2 separate regions of the Homo sapiens genome follow, and region 1 is linked to region 2. Evidence: fine-mapped expression QTL. Tissue or cell type: CD8 T cells. Region 2 holds a variant in brackets; the other region holds the start of a gene. All regions are shown on one strand. Distances are from middle to middle.

What was found. PIP is the estimated chance that this variant, and not a neighbour inherited with it, causes the effect.
Region 1: it holds the start of TGFBR2, and the variant in region 2 is fine-mapped to the expression of TGFBR2 in CD8 T cells (CEDAR, PIP 0.95). The same link has a PIP of 0.9 or more in B cells, CD4 T cells, monocytes and neutrophils.

Annotation. Positions count from the first base shown.
Region 1 is chr3:30,602,623-30,610,787 of GRCh38, forward strand. TGFBR2 (transforming growth factor beta receptor 2) reads left to right here and starts at 3,979. Exons shown (of 7, transcript NM_003242.6): 1 at 3,979-4,355. The coding sequence starts at 4,262. It overlaps LOC105377015 (translation initiation factor IF-2-like), which reads right to left and starts at 4,302. Exons shown (of 2, transcript XM_047449400.1): 1 at 3,524-4,302; 2 at 1,777-2,936. The coding sequence starts at 4,302. The coding sequence ends at 3,862. RefSeq lists a silencer at 4,053-4,152.
Region 2 is chr3:30,690,150-30,698,352 of GRCh38, forward strand. It overlaps TGFBR2 (transforming growth factor beta receptor 2), which reads left to right. Exons shown (of 7, transcript NM_003242.6): 7 at 1,271-3,993. The coding sequence ends at 1,450. Among named protein-coding and RNA genes, the nearest start is that of TGFBR2, 88 kb to the left of the region's middle. The variant C/T (reference allele first, on the strand shown) is at 3,515.

The DNA.
Region 1 (8,165 bases), 88 kb before region 2:
TCTCTCTATTGAAGACAAGAAACACACACTGAATACTGATTATCTGTAGAGCACGGAGTGTGGTTCTACATTGAAAAAGGAATATTTTGTGCTTTTAAGGGCTTTACAATCATTAGGGTAGAATTCTAAAAAGCAAATAAATAACAATAATGTACTCCATGTTAGAATGGGGCAAACATTTTTTTTTAAAAAAAGGCTAAATAAACGAAATGTTCCCTGGGTTATCCCTGGGAAAGGAGTGATCACAGTAGGTGAAGCATCACAAAATATTTCCTGGAGGAGGTAGCATCATGGATGACCCACAAAGGGTGGATGACCCTCACAAATTAACTACAGTCTCAGTGCTTATTGGTTTGCTTCACAATAAAAGGAAAATTGGTCAAGAGATAAGAGCTGAGAATGAGGCTGGTTAATTTATAAGGAGAGGAATCTCCCTGTTAACTGCTCTAGCTGACAGTAACCTCAACAGCTGCATGTCACAAAGCTCAGGGGAGTAGGAAGTTCTTCTCTCATCACAACTGAGAAACCCAACGTTTAAATAAACCACAATTTGATTCAGTTCAATTGTGTGTGTTTGTGTGTGCGTGCAGAGTTTAAAAAGCTGGTAAAATAGATTGTCAGCTTTTAAAATTTCTGTTCAAGTTGATATTTATTGTTTTTCAACTCATTAAGGGCTTAAACGTTACCTTCCTTGTTTTTTAAACCCTGAGTCGGGCTATTATTTTTTTGTTCCCATTTGCAAATGGCCCAGTTTTTTACATGTATATATTAACTGCTTATGTGAATACACAAAATATTATACTAAGCCAAATATACAACTATGTGTGAAAATGATGTCTTGATTAAGGGTATCAGACATCCCTTTCAACAAGAATTTCAAAAGGAAGGGCATCATGACAATTTTTTTTTCTTTTTCTTTTATTTATTTTTTGTTTTTGAGACAGGGTCTCATTCTGTCTTCTAGGCTGAAGTGCAGTGGCACAATCATGGCTCACTGCAGCGTTCGTCTCCTGGGCTCAAGTGATTCTCCCACCTCAGCCTCCTGAGTAGTTGGCACTATAGATACATGCCAACATGCCTGGCTTTTTTTTTTTTTTTTTTTTTTTTAGTAAAGATGAAATCTCACTATGTTGCTTAGGCTGGTCTCGAACTCCTGGGCTCAAGTAATCCTCCCATCTAGACCTCCCAAAGTGCTGGGATTACAGGTGTGGACCACTGCACTCAGCCTGATGAATTTTTAAAATTATCAAATTGCAATATGCATGAGTTTACACATCTATTATTTTTATTATGATGATTTTCAAAAGGCTAGCTTGCACTTGGCAATGCTGAATTCTGATTCTTCTCAATTTCACAGGAGACTGGAGATTAAATCAGAAATGTTAAGGGCAAACAAAATTAAAATCAACATTAATGATGTATCATGGCAAAGACCACCAGTTAAACATTCCACCATAGATTTAAATATCTAGCCTCCAACAATGTAAAACATCTTTGTGATAATTAAGGAAAACAAAGCTTTTGGAATCTATTGGACATTTATTTGCCACATTGTGTTTTCAGGAGAAAGAAAGTACATGTTTGCTATCTGGAGGAACTTGGGCAAATGTAGGAAAAAAAAAAGAAGAAGAAAGAAACCCACATACTTCTCCATTCTTAAGAAAAGGAAGTAGTGGTGACATCATTCTCGGCTAAAATGTAGTCTGTTTATATCTCAAATATTCGGTAACAATGTTTTCTCCAGAGTTATGAAGCAACTAGAACAATCAAATACAATTTTCTTCTAAATCTTTATTGCCTGATTCATTCATTCATCCAACAAATATTTATTAAACATCGATTATGTGTTTGATGCTTAGGGACACAATAGTAAGTGGAGGGAAAGATACATAATACCTGCCCTCAAGAAATTTGGAGTTGAGTGGAGGATAGAAATATAAATTAAAGAATGACACAAATAATTATAAAGTTACAGCTGTTAAAAGAAAAGCATATGGTGCCAAGAGAACGTGTAATACAAGATCTACTCATGGAGGTGAGGGAAAGCTTGCCCATCAAAGAAGTTATGATTCAATCCACGAAGACCAGGAGTTGGCTGGGTGAAGAAAAAAAGGTCAGAGGAAGGAAGTCCACACTGGGGAAGGCTCTAAGCATAAAGGGTAGGAGGATTACAGAGGCATATTCACGAAATTTGGAGAAGGCTTTCAGTAAGCAAGGAGAAGCCAAATGAAAGTTTACGGGAGAGTTGGAGGCTTGAAGACACGTTCAAGGATCTGGTTTTTATCTTCTCTTTATCTCAAGAGCAGTGGGAAGCCATTAAATGATTTTAATCAGAGGGTTGGTATAACTAGTTTTGTATTTTGAAAAGCTGAATTCAGCTCTCGTTTGAGAAACTGAGTGAAAGAGCCCAGAACGGCCGTGGCTGAGGGTGACTCGTGGGAGACTCCTACACAAGCCATGGCAGTGGCATGGGCTGGTGGCAGAAGAGGGAATAGGGAGAAGATTTGGAACTCAATCTTCCTCCATTGACAAAGTCACTCCAGCTTTGGCAAGGCAATTAATTGGTGGGAAAGAAGATGCCTAGCCCTCCTGATTTCACTGCACTTTCTGCATCTTCAACATGAGTACTGGGAAGTGGCAAAACATCCAGAGGCAGCTTGGGTGCTAGGTGGAGCATGAGTTAAAATTCCAGGATGAAGCAAATGAACACTTAGAATGACAGGAAAGATTTGGGAGTTGGGTTTGGGGGAGGGCTATTTACCTTTATTCCCTGGAGACCCTGGCACAAACCCTTGCCTCTGCAATCTTCCTCTCAGGTAAAGGAATTCATTAAATGAATTGCTAGAAGATCTACTGACCAGAGGGCTGTACAGAATCATATCTTTGAGAGTGGGAAGTAGGTTGATCACATAGTTTATTATCCAATCAGGACATATCTGAAAGAGAAAGGGGGTTCTATTAATATTTAAACTACAAAACATGTACACCAGGAATGTCTTGGGCAAATCTGGTTGCCCTAGCAAGAAAGGAAATTTGAAAGTTTATACTGTTCTGCTCCCATGTTACCCCGTTTGCACATGAGAGGGTAAGTATTCTCTTTCTTCACCTGCATTAAGGGAATAAAAGCACAAGCATTCAGGTGACTCCCAACCCACTTTTAATTTTACAGTTTCTGCTATACTCTATACATTCTGAAAATTACATTTCCCACCACTATCACTTCGTGATAGGTGATCATTTACAATTACTCACTGACTCAGTCCCGGGAAGAGGCGGTGCAAAATGGGACGCTCTATCCAGGTGCTCATTAGAAATGCAGAATCTCTGCCTGCCTCCTAGACCTACTGAATTAGAATCTGCATTTTTAAATAAGATTTCCAGGTGATCAATATGTACATTAAAACTTGAGAAAAACCTCTAGACTTCGACCTAAAGAAAAACATTTTACAACTTGACAGTGTATGCACATACATACATGCATATAGACACAACTGAAGCACAAATTTAATGAAGTAGAATTTACCGTTACTATTTTATTTGGGAAAGAAATGTGCTCGCGACTCAATAGATTGGAGTATTCACTCCTGGATCTCAACTTGCAATTTGAAAACGCATCTCTAAAGCACCTAGGAGCAATCTGAAGAAAGCTGAGGGGAGGCGGCAGATGTTCTGATCTACTAGGGAAAACGTGGACGTTTTCTGTTGTTACTTTGTGAACTGTGTGCACTTAGTCATTCTTGAGTAAATACTTGGAGCGAGGAACTCCTGAGTGGTGTGGGAGGGCGGTGAGGGGCAGCTGAAAGTCGGCCAAAGCTCTCGGAGGGGCTGGTCTAGGAAACATGATTGGCAGCTACGAGAGAGCTAGGGGCTGGACGTCGAGGAGAGGGAGAAGGCTCTCGGGCGGAGAGAGGTCCTGCCCAGCTGTTGGCGAGGAGTTTCCTGTTTCCCCCGCAGCGCTGAGTTGAAGTTGAGTGAGTCACTCGCGCGCACGGAGCGACGACACCCCCGCGCGTGCACCCGCTCGGGACAGGAGCCGGACTCCTGTGCAGCTTCCCTCGGCCGCCGGGGGCCTCCCCGCGCCTCGCCGGCCTCCAGGCCCCCTCCTGGCTGGCGAGCGGGCGCCACATCTGGCCCGCACATCTGCGCTGCCGGCCCGGCGCGGGGTCCGGAGAGGGCGCGGCGCGGAGGCGCAGCCAGGGGTCCGGGAAGGCGCCGTCCGCTGCGCTGGGGGCTCGGTCTATGACGAGCAGCGGGGTCTGCCATGGGTCGGGGGCTGCTCAGGGGCCTGTGGCCGCTGCACATCGTCCTGTGGACGCGTATCGCCAGCACGATCCCACCGCACGTTCAGAAGTCGGGTGAGTGGTCCCCAGCCCGGGCTCGGCGGGGCGCCGGGGGTCTTCCTGGGGTCCCCGCCTCTCCGCTGCGCTTGACAGTCGGGCCCGGCAACCCGGCCCCCGGGCGGAAACGAGGAAAGTTTCCCCCGCGACACTCACGCAGCCCGACTCCCGTAGCTGCAGGGATTGTGAGTTTTTCTTGAAAAAGAGAAGGAAAGTTCAGTTGCAAGGGGCGCGGGGCACGTTTGGTCCCCTTTGTGCGAGCAGGAAAGGCGTTGTGTTGGCCGCGTTCGAGGCGAGCCCCCACCCCCGGAAAGGGAAGTTTGAGAAGTTGGTTATCTGAAGGCGGCCGGGGAGCAGCGGCCCGGAGCGGCAGCCTGAGCTGCCAAAGCAGCCAGCGCACCTGGGCCACTCCGCCCATGGCGATGCCGCGTGCCCACCCAGCTCTTTCTGAGCCACCCGTTCAAAAGGCCAGCTCCTCAGTCCTTAGCTCCTGGAGACGGCCACGCTTTCCCTCAGGCCGGCTTCTTGGCCCGGAGTTTTTGGAAACAAGTTTCAAGAAAATAATCGATTTCCAAAAGAAAGTTAGCTGGCTCCACTGACGCCTTGGCATGGATGGATAGGGAGTGGAGATGCTCAGGTGAAACCGAGAATCCCTCACTGAATGCCTACTGGGTGCTAGAGGCTGTAGATTTTGCCTGGAACAAGATAGTCCTGTCTTCAGGGAGTTGATGGTTCTATGCAATTATCGTTTGTTGGAAACCGAAGGGTTAAAATCCTAACTAGGCTACCCACCTGATCGCTGTCTCTGAAGGTTTTTAAGGAAAAAATAAAAATAAAAAAATATATATATATATTATATATATATAAATATATATATAATTATATATATAAATATATATAATATTAATATATATATGCATGCAGGAATGGGGGTTCTTAACTATTTGTTATGGAAAGTGTAAAACCTCTGAGACTTCAAAAGTTAGATTTTTTTTTTTTGGAGACGGAGTCTCGCTCTGTCACCAGGCTGGAGTGCAGTGGCGCAATCTCGGCTCACTGCAACTTTGCCTCTGGGTTCAAGCGATTCTCCTGCCTTAGCCTCCCGAGTAGCTGGGATTACAGGCGCGTGCCACCACGCCCAGCTAATTTTTGTATTTTTAGTAGAGACGGGGTTTCACCATATTGGCCAGGGTGGTCTCGATCTCTTGACCTCGTGATCCGCCCACCTTGGCCTCCCAAAGTGCTGGGATTACAGGCGTGAGCCACCGCGCCCGGCCAAAAGTTAGACTTTTTGCAGCTATGATCCAAATAACAGTATCTGCAGCTGTGGTCTGGGTAACCGAGTATTTGGGCAAGTCATAGAGCTTTTTCTGGGCCTTAGTTTCCTCATCTGTAAAATGGCCAGCTTGAATCTGGGTAATTTTACATCATCTTCATGTTTAACATCTTACGTATCGTGCCCCTCCCCTCCTTTCCCCTGGCTCTTCTGGTGACTTGGAGATGACCCATGTAGACTTTGGATGAAATGTAGAGGAGTTGACAGTCCACATCACCCGGAGGCACTCATTTTATTTATCCAGGGACATGGGCAGATTTACCTTTAGGTTTGTCTAGAAAAAATGCGCATCACGGTCAGTTGTAAATTTTAGAGTGTTTGAAGTGGATTGGGAACTTTTTAAAAATTATGGCATACATTGAAGGTGGCATGGAGATGGAAGCTTTTAATCAAATTAGGAAGAGGCACTATTGCAAGCAAAAAGTCTTGACACACATTTGAGTCCTATGGTTTTAATAAAATCTTAGTGTTTCGTTCTTGGCGTTTTTCCTGCATTGCAGTACCAGAATGTTCAATTGTCTCTCATTTTCCTCCAGACTTTTAAAACCTAAGTGACATTTTGCTAATAAATATTTAAAATGGCACCCTTAATTTTCTGTGGATGTTAAAAATCATTACAACTTTTGTTCCAGATTATAAAAGAAGGAAATTAGCAGGCCCTGATGTTGTTAGTTAGGTTCTGTTTACAAGGATAAGGTTTATGATTTGCAAATTCCAGACCCAATAGTTCACGAGTCACTTTCATTTCATCAATATACACACTTTTAAACAATTAGCTTAAAAACGTGGTGGCTTTTTATTTGGGTATTTAGACAGTTTTACAAGGCCCACAGATTTCATATTTTTATAGAACTGAAGTTTCAAAATGGTTGAATTAATGAATCATTTTGAATTTGTATTCATTTGATTCAAATTAAATTTTCAAAGTTGGCCAATGGTTGAAGACAGATATATTGAAGACGAGAAACCTAATTCTACTTACATTTTAATTTTTCATGTAAGTAAATAGTTTCAGAATTTCTCTAACGTAATTGGTAAACTGAAAACATTTTTTCAAAATATCTTAATGCAAGATAATATATCAGGTAATGAGATTGTTTAATAAACAACAAGCTCCTTTTACGTCACCTAAAAAGGCCCAAAAATCTGTCTTCTGTTTAGTAGCTTCTGTACTTCTGTTTAGTAGTATGCAAAGGATTTAAATAAAAGAACAAATTTCACTAAGAAATAGAAAGTTTTTTTTTCTTCGTTTTTGACTTAATAGATTCACTCTTCCTAAATGATCAAAATTAAGAAATGACTCTTTTGGGGAAAACTGTAAAGTGCACAATAACTCTTCAGGTCTGAAAAATATGACTTTTCAGGTTCCTGGAAGTAGATAGATTCTTATTGAGGACAAAGAATTTGTAAAAGTGTCATAGTGATCAGGTTCTTCACATCACTTTAATAACCTGCTTATTTTGTCAGGGTAAGAGACTAGACATCATTAGGCCCCAAATCTGATCTTCAGTCTACTCGTGCTTTTTTTCCGCCTCATAAAAACACATTTCCACCTTTAGGCCACTCAACATCTTATTTTTAATGAGTTATGATTTATACAAAATACTAATCACATTTTGAACTCATTGCCTTCTTTTCAATGTAGCATTCCCTAATGATGACTGTTGTCTATGTAGTCAACATAACTACTACATGTTTTCTACTCAGTTATGAACATGACTTTTTAATTTTTTCAGTAAGGTTAGTTTTTAACTCTGGATCAATAAGGCACCTCTGATATCATTGCAAAAACTGGGCATTTTTTCTTCTACCTTTTCAACCATATTTATTGAGTATCTCTTGCCAGGCAGGATGCTCAGACCTGGGATACCATCTCAGATGAATAAGACAGACCTGGTCTTTGCCATTGAATTTAACAGCTGGGAGCATGTTATAAGTAAAGAAAAGGATACGTGTTTTAACTGTTTATATTTGAAAGCATTATGGAATACTGGTGTTTTATTTTCTACACCTCATTTTCAAAAGCCTCATTTTTTTTTGTTGTTGTATGCACTAGGAGGATGTGCATGTTGAATGTTTCCTTCTAGGTCCCATTGAATGTATTTTTGAATCAATTTGTTGTCTCTTTCCTATCCCTGCCTTGTCACGGAGCCCCAGTTGGGCAGCCTTTAATTGCATTCTCCATTCCATAGCCAGCATGATGGACCCAATGCGTTCATTTAGTGCTCTCTTTGAGGATAGGCTGGTGGTAGAAGAGTGTAGGGTATAAACTTTGGAATCAGGCCGTCCTGGGTTCCAGACCCACTTGCCATGTACTGGCTGTGTAGCCTGTTGTAGTTGCTTTACCTACTAGTCATCCCTGGTCTCATTTGTAAAATGAGGATTATGGAGTTATGGTGAGGATTAAATAAAATATTGTTTTAAAGTATTTAACATGGTGCCTGCAACATAGTAAATGCTCAATAAATATCAGCTTCTGTTATTACTATTAA
Region 2 (8,203 bases):
CCCACTCCCAGCCACCTGTGTGAGGGATCCCATTAGCAATGTTGATCTTACAATTGGGAGGAGCACACTCTATTTCCACCTATCAGACCATTTACTTAACTCCTGCCTGCTTTATTTCCAAAAAGGATTTGAAATGATAACAAAAATATTTGCAATGCAAAATAAAAATTAAGCCAGTGAGAGAAAACTCTTGCCACCTTCCTGGGCAGGATCTCCTGGATGGTCTCCTTGGATGGGAGCTTGATTCGGTTAGGGTGAACCCTAGGAAATGGCATAGAGTTAAGCATGCCTGACCCACATAGGCAGCTGTTTCACAGGGTTCAACCCAATGTTGTTGGAGAGGAATGGAGCATCCCAGAGGTCATCCTTGGCAGCTCGTAGAAGCTGCTACTGAATCACTCTACAAAATGTGTGGCCTATAGAAAATGAAACCATGCTAATGCCTGCATACAATTCTGACGGGGGTAATCAGCCCTGTTAAAATAGAACAGTGTATATGACCCAACTATATGACACTCTGGAAAAGGCAAAAACTACAGAGACAGTACAAAATCAGTGGCTGCCAGAAATTTAGGGGAATGGAGGGAGGGATGAATAAGTGGAATGCAGGGAATTTGAGGGGCAGAGAAACTATTCCGCATGATACTATAATGGTAGATACATGTCATTATACATTTGTCAAAACCCCTGGAATATACAACACCAAGAGTGAACCCTAATGTAAACTATGAATTTGATTGATAATGATACGTCAGTGTTAGTTCATCAGTTATAACAAATGTACCTCATAGATGCATGCATGATGTCAAGGTGGAGAAGGCTGTGCCTTTATGGGGAAGGGGTTTTGTGAAAACTCTCTGTACTTTCCACTCAATTTTGCTGTGAAGCGAGAACTTCTCTAAATAGAAAGGTGTTGAAATGATATTAAGGGCCACTACATGGGGAATTTTCAGGTGTTGGGAGTGTTAGTGTACCCCAGAAGCCCAGCAGAGGATCATTGTGCTGTCAGGACCTATTGTGATCAGATAGCACCAGAGCCAAAAAGTATGGTAGGTTTTGAGCACAGCTGCCACCAGCACAAACCCCCCACCACCCTTTCCACATGGAACTGGCTGGCCTGCAGCAGCAGGCACTCAGTCAGCACATGTTAAATGCACAGGCACTTTTGGACCCTGCTTGCACTCACTATAGCAACAAGGTCAGCAGGCCACCTTGCCTTCCGCGGAGCCCACCAACTCATGGTGCCCTTTGGATCTCTTTCCCGCTACAGGGCATCCAGATGGTGTGTGAGACGTTGACTGAGTGCTGGGACCACGACCCAGAGGCCCGTCTCACAGCCCAGTGTGTGGCAGAACGCTTCAGTGAGCTGGAGCATCTGGACAGGCTCTCGGGGAGGAGCTGCTCGGAGGAGAAGATTCCTGAAGACGGCTCCCTAAACACTACCAAATAGCTCTTCTGGGGCAGGCTGGGCCATGTCCAAAGAGGCTGCCCCTCTCACCAAAGAACAGAGGCAGCAGGAAGCTGCCCCTGAACTGATGCTTCCTGGAAAACCAAGGGGGTCACTCCCCTCCCTGTAAGCTGTGGGGATAAGCAGAAACAACAGCAGCAGGGAGTGGGTGACATAGAGCATTCTATGCCTTTGACATTGTCATAGGATAAGCTGTGTTAGCACTTCCTCAGGAAATGAGATTGATTTTTACAATAGCCAATAACATTTGCACTTTATTAATGCCTGTATATAAATATGAATAGCTATGTTTTATATATATATATATATATCTATATATGTCTATAGCTCTATATATATAGCCATACCTTGAAAAGAGACAAGGAAAAACATCAAATATTCCCAGGAAATTGGTTTTATTGGAGAACTCCAGAACCAAGCAGAGAAGGAAGGGACCCATGACAGCATTAGCATTTGACAATCACACATGCAGTGGTTCTCTGACTGTAAAACAGTGAACTTTGCATGAGGAAAGAGGCTCCATGTCTCACAGCCAGCTATGACCACATTGCACTTGCTTTTGCAAAATAATCATTCCCTGCCTAGCACTTCTCTTCTGGCCATGGAACTAAGTACAGTGGCACTGTTTGAGGACCAGTGTTCCCGGGGTTCCTGTGTGCCCTTATTTCTCCTGGACTTTTCATTTAAGCTCCAAGCCCCAAATCTGGGGGGCTAGTTTAGAAACTCTCCCTCAACCTAGTTTAGAAACTCTACCCCATCTTTAATACCTTGAATGTTTTGAACCCCACTTTTTACCTTCATGGGTTGCAGAAAAATCAGAACAGATGTCCCCATCCATGCGATTGCCCCACCATCTACTAATGAAAAATTGTTCTTTTTTTCATCTTTCCCCTGCACTTATGTTACTATTCTCTGCTCCCAGCCTTCATCCTTTTCTAAAAAGGAGCAAATTCTCACTCTAGGCTTTATCGTGTTTACTTTTTCATTACACTTGACTTGATTTTCTAGTTTTCTATACAAACACCAATGGGTTCCATCTTTCTGGGCTCCTGATTGCTCAAGCACAGTTTGGCCTGATGAAGAGGATTTCAACTACACAATACTATCATTGTCAGGACTATGACCTCAGGCACTCTAAACATATGTTTTGTTTGGTCAGCACAGCGTTTCAAAAAGTGAAGCCACTTTATAAATATTTGGAGATTTTGCAGGAAAATCTGGATCCCCAGGTAAGGATAGCAGATGGTTTTCAGTTATCTCCAGTCCACGTTCACAAAATGTGAAGGTGTGGAGACACTTACAAAGCTGCCTCACTTCTCACTGTAAACATTAGCTCTTTCCACTGCCTACCTGGACCCCAGTCTAGGAATTAAATCTGCACCTAACCAAGGTCCCTTGTAAGAAATGTCCATTCAAGCAGTCATTCTCTGGGTATATAATATGATTTTGACTACCTTATCTGGTGTTAAGATTTGAAGTTGGCCTTTTATTGGACTAAAGGGGAACTCCTTTAAGGGTCTCAGTTAGCCCAAGTTTCTTTTGCTTATATGTTAATAGTTTTACCCTCTGCATTGGAGAGAGGAGTGCTTTACTCCAAGAAGCTTTCCTCATGGTTACCGTTCTCTCCATCATGCCAGCCTTCTCAACCTTTGCAGAAATTACTAGAGAGGATTTGAATGTGGGACACAAAGGTCCCATTTGCAGTTAGAAAATTTGTGTCCACAAGGACAAGAACAAAGTATGAGCTTTAAAACTCCATAGGAAACTTGTTAATCAACAAAGAAGTGTTAATGCTGCAAGTAATCTCTTTTTTAAAACTTTTTGAAGCTACTTATTTTCAGCCAAATAGGAATATTAGAGAGGGACTGGTAGTGAGAATATCAGCTCTGTTTGGATGGTGGAAGGTCTCATTTTATTGAGATTTTTAAGATACATGCAAAGGTTTGGAAATAGAACCTCTAGGCACCCTCCTCAGTGTGGGTGGGCTGAGAGTTAAAGACAGTGTGGCTGCAGTAGCATAGAGGCGCCTAGAAATTCCACTTGCAC[C/T]GTAGGGCATGCTGATACCATCCCAATAGCTGTTGCCCATTGACCTCTAGTGGTGAGTTTCTAGAATACTGGTCCATTCATGAGATATTCAAGATTCAAGAGTATTCTCACTTCTGGGTTATCAGCATAAACTGGAATGTAGTGTCAGAGGATACTGTGGCTTGTTTTGTTTATGTTTTTTTTTCTTATTCAAGAAAAAAGACCAAGGAATAACATTCTGTAGTTCCTAAAAATACTGACTTTTTTCACTACTATACATAAAGGGAAAGTTTTATTCTTTTATGGAACACTTCAGCTGTACTCATGTATTAAAATAGGAATGTGAATGCTATATACTCTTTTTATATCAAAAGTCTCAAGCACTTATTTTTATTCTATGCATTGTTTGTCTTTTACATAAATAAAATGTTTATTAGATTGAATAAAGCAAAATACTCAGGTGAGCATCCTGCCTCCTGTTCCCATTCCTAGTAGCTAAATCCATTTGCCTCATTTGGTTATTTTGCAATTTATGCAGAAAACGTCACCAAGTAAATAATCTCCAACTTTTTCATACTGTCTTTCTCAACTGACAGTCTCACAGTCCTTAAAAAAAAAAAAAAAAAAAAAAAAAAGTCACAGAAGCTCAGTAATATGAGATGAAGCAGATGCTGCTCATGGCCTGCCTGCCATGCTGGCGTCCTGGCATGATGTCCCTCTGAATGCCCAGAAGACCTCTTCCCACAGTCTCAGGAGCTGCCTCTATCCACATGGCTGTTTCTTGCAGGGATTTTCACAGCCAGTGTTTCTACCGCTTCTTCTATTTTCTCTATTCCTCATACTAGCAAGCTGTTGGCTCTCTTCTTGACTCTTGTCATATTCCATGCTTCCCTTTTCTACCCAGATACCACATCCATTTGGTGCTTTTAATTGATTTACATGAATGGTGAGATGAATATGCCTTAGGAAATTGTCTCCTGGTCATTTCTTGTGACAAAGTGCACGAGATTTTCTGCCTGAACTTCATGCTACCTGTTTTGGAATCTGAGAGATTCTGTAGCTTCTTCTTAGTTATCGACTGGGTTCTAAATAGTTAATGTCATAGTGCCTGCACCAGGGTATTTCAACCTTAGCACTGCTGACTTATTTTTGCATTGGATAATTGTGTGTTGGGAGGGAGGGAAGCCGTCCTGTGCACTGTGGGATGTTTAGCAGTATCCCTCGCCTCCACCCACTAGATGCCAGTAGCACCCACCCCACAGCTGTGACAACCAAAAATTTCTCCAGACATTGCCAAATGTCCCCTGAAAGACAAAGTTCCTCTCAGTGGAGAATCACTGAGCTAGATGATGTGGTCCTACTGTGGGCCTTAGTTATAGTCTTGTCTTTATTAGTAGCAATTTTAGTGGTTACTAACTGTAGAGGTTACCTGCTCCTCTATTTGCCAGCTTTGTGATCTGGGCAAATTACTTAACCTCTCCATGCCTCAGTTTCATCATGTGTAAAATGAGATTTTACAAGCCTCATCCTATACAAGATAAAATTGTGGTAAGAAGACACATTAGGCTTTTGAAGATGGGTCTTGAACTTTTTGGAAAGCCTTCACTACATGCTGGCCAGTGTTAAGTTGGTTTAGTATGCCAAGGACTGCTTAGGCAAAGAAGCAGATTTTTAGGTACAAACCTAGAGAGCATTTACAACAGAGGAAAATGGGTACAGTCCCCAGGTCTGCAGGACAGGAAACGTGGGTCCTGTGTGAACACATAATCGGGGGAGAGCGCTCATTCACTGAGTACTCGCTATGCCATCGGATTGAATCCTCCACTAGCTCGGTGAGGTACATACTATGCCCATTTAACAGATGAGGAAACAGATGGTCAGAGAGCTCAGATAAGAAGCCCAGGGTCTCACCATGTAGAATCTGGATGCAGGGCCAAGTTGTCTTGGAACTGGAATTTGGAACACCTGACATGCTTGGTTCTTTATTTCCTGCTGTTTCCTGAGGGAACTGACCTGCCCAAGCAGGACCAAAAGGCTACCCCATGAAGAAAAGCTCTGCTACTGGATCATTGTTCTCATCTCTCTCTGGGTCTCTGCTCAGTGGAGGCAGAAAAGGTGCTTTTCCATTTCTATTGCCTGACTTCCTCTCCATTCACATGGTAAGTGTTGTCTACATGCTTGCTGAGAGAACAACTGGAAGATGAGTGAATGTGTGTAGACTGTGTTTCCTAATGTGTGAAATGTGTACTGGTATCTGAGATGATTTAAGATTGTGCCACCTTTATAAAAATAGATCCACCTTTATTTTAGTGGATCATTAACATACATTAGAAAAAAATCATTAACACAGCCTGGGCTTTCACAAATAATATTGCTTGAAATATGGCTGAGTTTAAAAACTTGAATTGATTATTAAAATACATTAAGTAGACGACACTCATGCATGACAACTACAGGAGGTGTTAATAGGAATAATTGAAGTTAGGGAGCTCTACCCAAGGAGGCAAATTCATATTAATTCCTAACATTTATTGAGTACTTGGTAAGTGCCAAACACTATTCTCTGTTTTACCTTATCTGCTTAAATCCTCTCAACAACCCTGCGAAGTATCTTACCTCCATCTTATAGAGGAGGAAACTGAGGCAGAGAGCAAGGTCTAGCTAAGGGTCGCAATCATTAGCATGAGAATTTGAACTGAAGCAGTTGGACTCCAGGGATCAAACCCCCACCTTGAACACAAGATAAAGCTGGAGTTAGGGGGTAACAACGTGGAGCCTCTGGAGAGCTCAAGGGTTTTTGATTCAACAGTCCAAAATGAGGAGGCAGATGCAGTTAGCACTGGAGAGGAGGGAGTTACCCATGAGGGAACCCAGGGAGGAAAAGTTATTCCTCAAATGCACATGGGCTCCGGGCTGCAGCCCAAGAGCTTCAGCCAAAACAGGAGCCAAGGTCTTCTAACCCCTCTCCCTTCTTCCACGCTTTGTTTTGCTGGGGTTATTTTAGTTCTTGCTACTGCAAGGTCAGGAACATTCCCAACTGGCAATTGGTCTCCAAGTGCCCTCAGCATGGACTCAGTCCCTTGCACCAGTCAGCATCCTTTGAATGCAGTCTATATTTGTGCCCAGGAGTTTCTATTTGTGGTGGCTGTTTTTGTTTTAAGCTCTCTATGCAAATGACACACTAATGGTCTGGTCCTAAGGGAAATTCTGTCTTCAGGTGACAGAGAACTTTTCATTTAAACAAGTGTATCTATCCTTTTTCACTAAAGCCACTACAGTCGGCATCTGCTCATTTTGTTCATTTTCCTCCTGAAATAGGTTAGCTAATCATTGCTTATCACATTTCCAACTAGTTTCTTTTTTTTTACTTGAATAACTATAGCTCCACCCTCTATGGGTTTGGGGCCATGCCTTTCAGGCCTACTTTGCAAACTGTGCTGATAAAAGACAAGATTGTGAACTTGCCCACATTACATGGGCTGCCAATCAGCCTCACATGGTGTAATTTAATTCTAATACGCCTCCTGATCTTTGGTGCATTTAAAAATAACTTGTTAATAGTCTTCCTATTCTAATTAAGCTAAAATTGCACACACTGTGAAATGCTTGCTCTCTTGCTCTCTCATGCTCTCTCTCTCTCTCTACACACACACACACACACACACACACACACACACACACAATTGATCCTTAAAAATCATTTCTGTAAACTGCCTGTGTAGCACAGTGCTTCTGAAATTCTCCTGTGTCTTCCCCTGACCTATGCCCACAATGATAGACAATAGAATAAAATAACTGTGGCCCTGGTACCCTAGGTCCATTAAAATATTCATAATAAATTGTCTAAACATTGATAACAAAGTGGTTAAAATTGGAACCTCTAGAGCCAAATCTCCTGGGTTCAAATCCCAGCTCTGCCACTAACTGTAACTTTGTGTAAGTCTTTTAACTGTTTTTATTTCCTGGTTTCTTAATGTGTAGAAGGAGGATAATGATGAGATCTACTTGGGAAAGTTGTAAGAGTTAAATGAAATACTGGTTTTTTAAATGGTTAGAACAGAGACTGATGCACATAAGTATTCATTATTATAATTCAGTTTTTGCATTCTTTAAAGTGAAGCTGTGTTGTTGCAGTATTTTAAGGATATATTGTTCCCCAAATTTTTGGGTAAAATTGACTGTTAAGGAAGATGAGTCATGTTTAAACTGTAATTGTGAGTAGACCACCCTTTATCCTTGAAGGGCTTTCTCAACCAGGTGAATGGCATGGCTGTGGTGGGAAATACAGGGCCCTGTGAGACAGGAAATCTAGGGGGTTGTCTAGCTCCATTACCATCCTCTTCTTTTATGGATTCAGTGTCTTGTTCTTTTGTTCCATGTGAGAATCATCCCTGCCCTGCCTACGTTATAAAGCTGGAGAAAAATGAAATAAGTAAAAACACATGGAAAACGTACTAAAATATTAATGCAAGGATGCAAGGTATAATCTTTGCTGGAACATTAGTTCCTCATTTATTAGTAACATTACAGGCATTTGAAATTATGTACTTTATATGGGACCTATATTTTAAATATATGCTAATCATCCTAGAAGCCCTACAAGGTAGGTGTTACTTTTTTCCATTTTACCATTAAGGAAATTATCCAGGTTTACACAACTTGAACCCAGGTCTCTGTCAGTAAAAAACTGTCTACTCTTCCAAACCATTT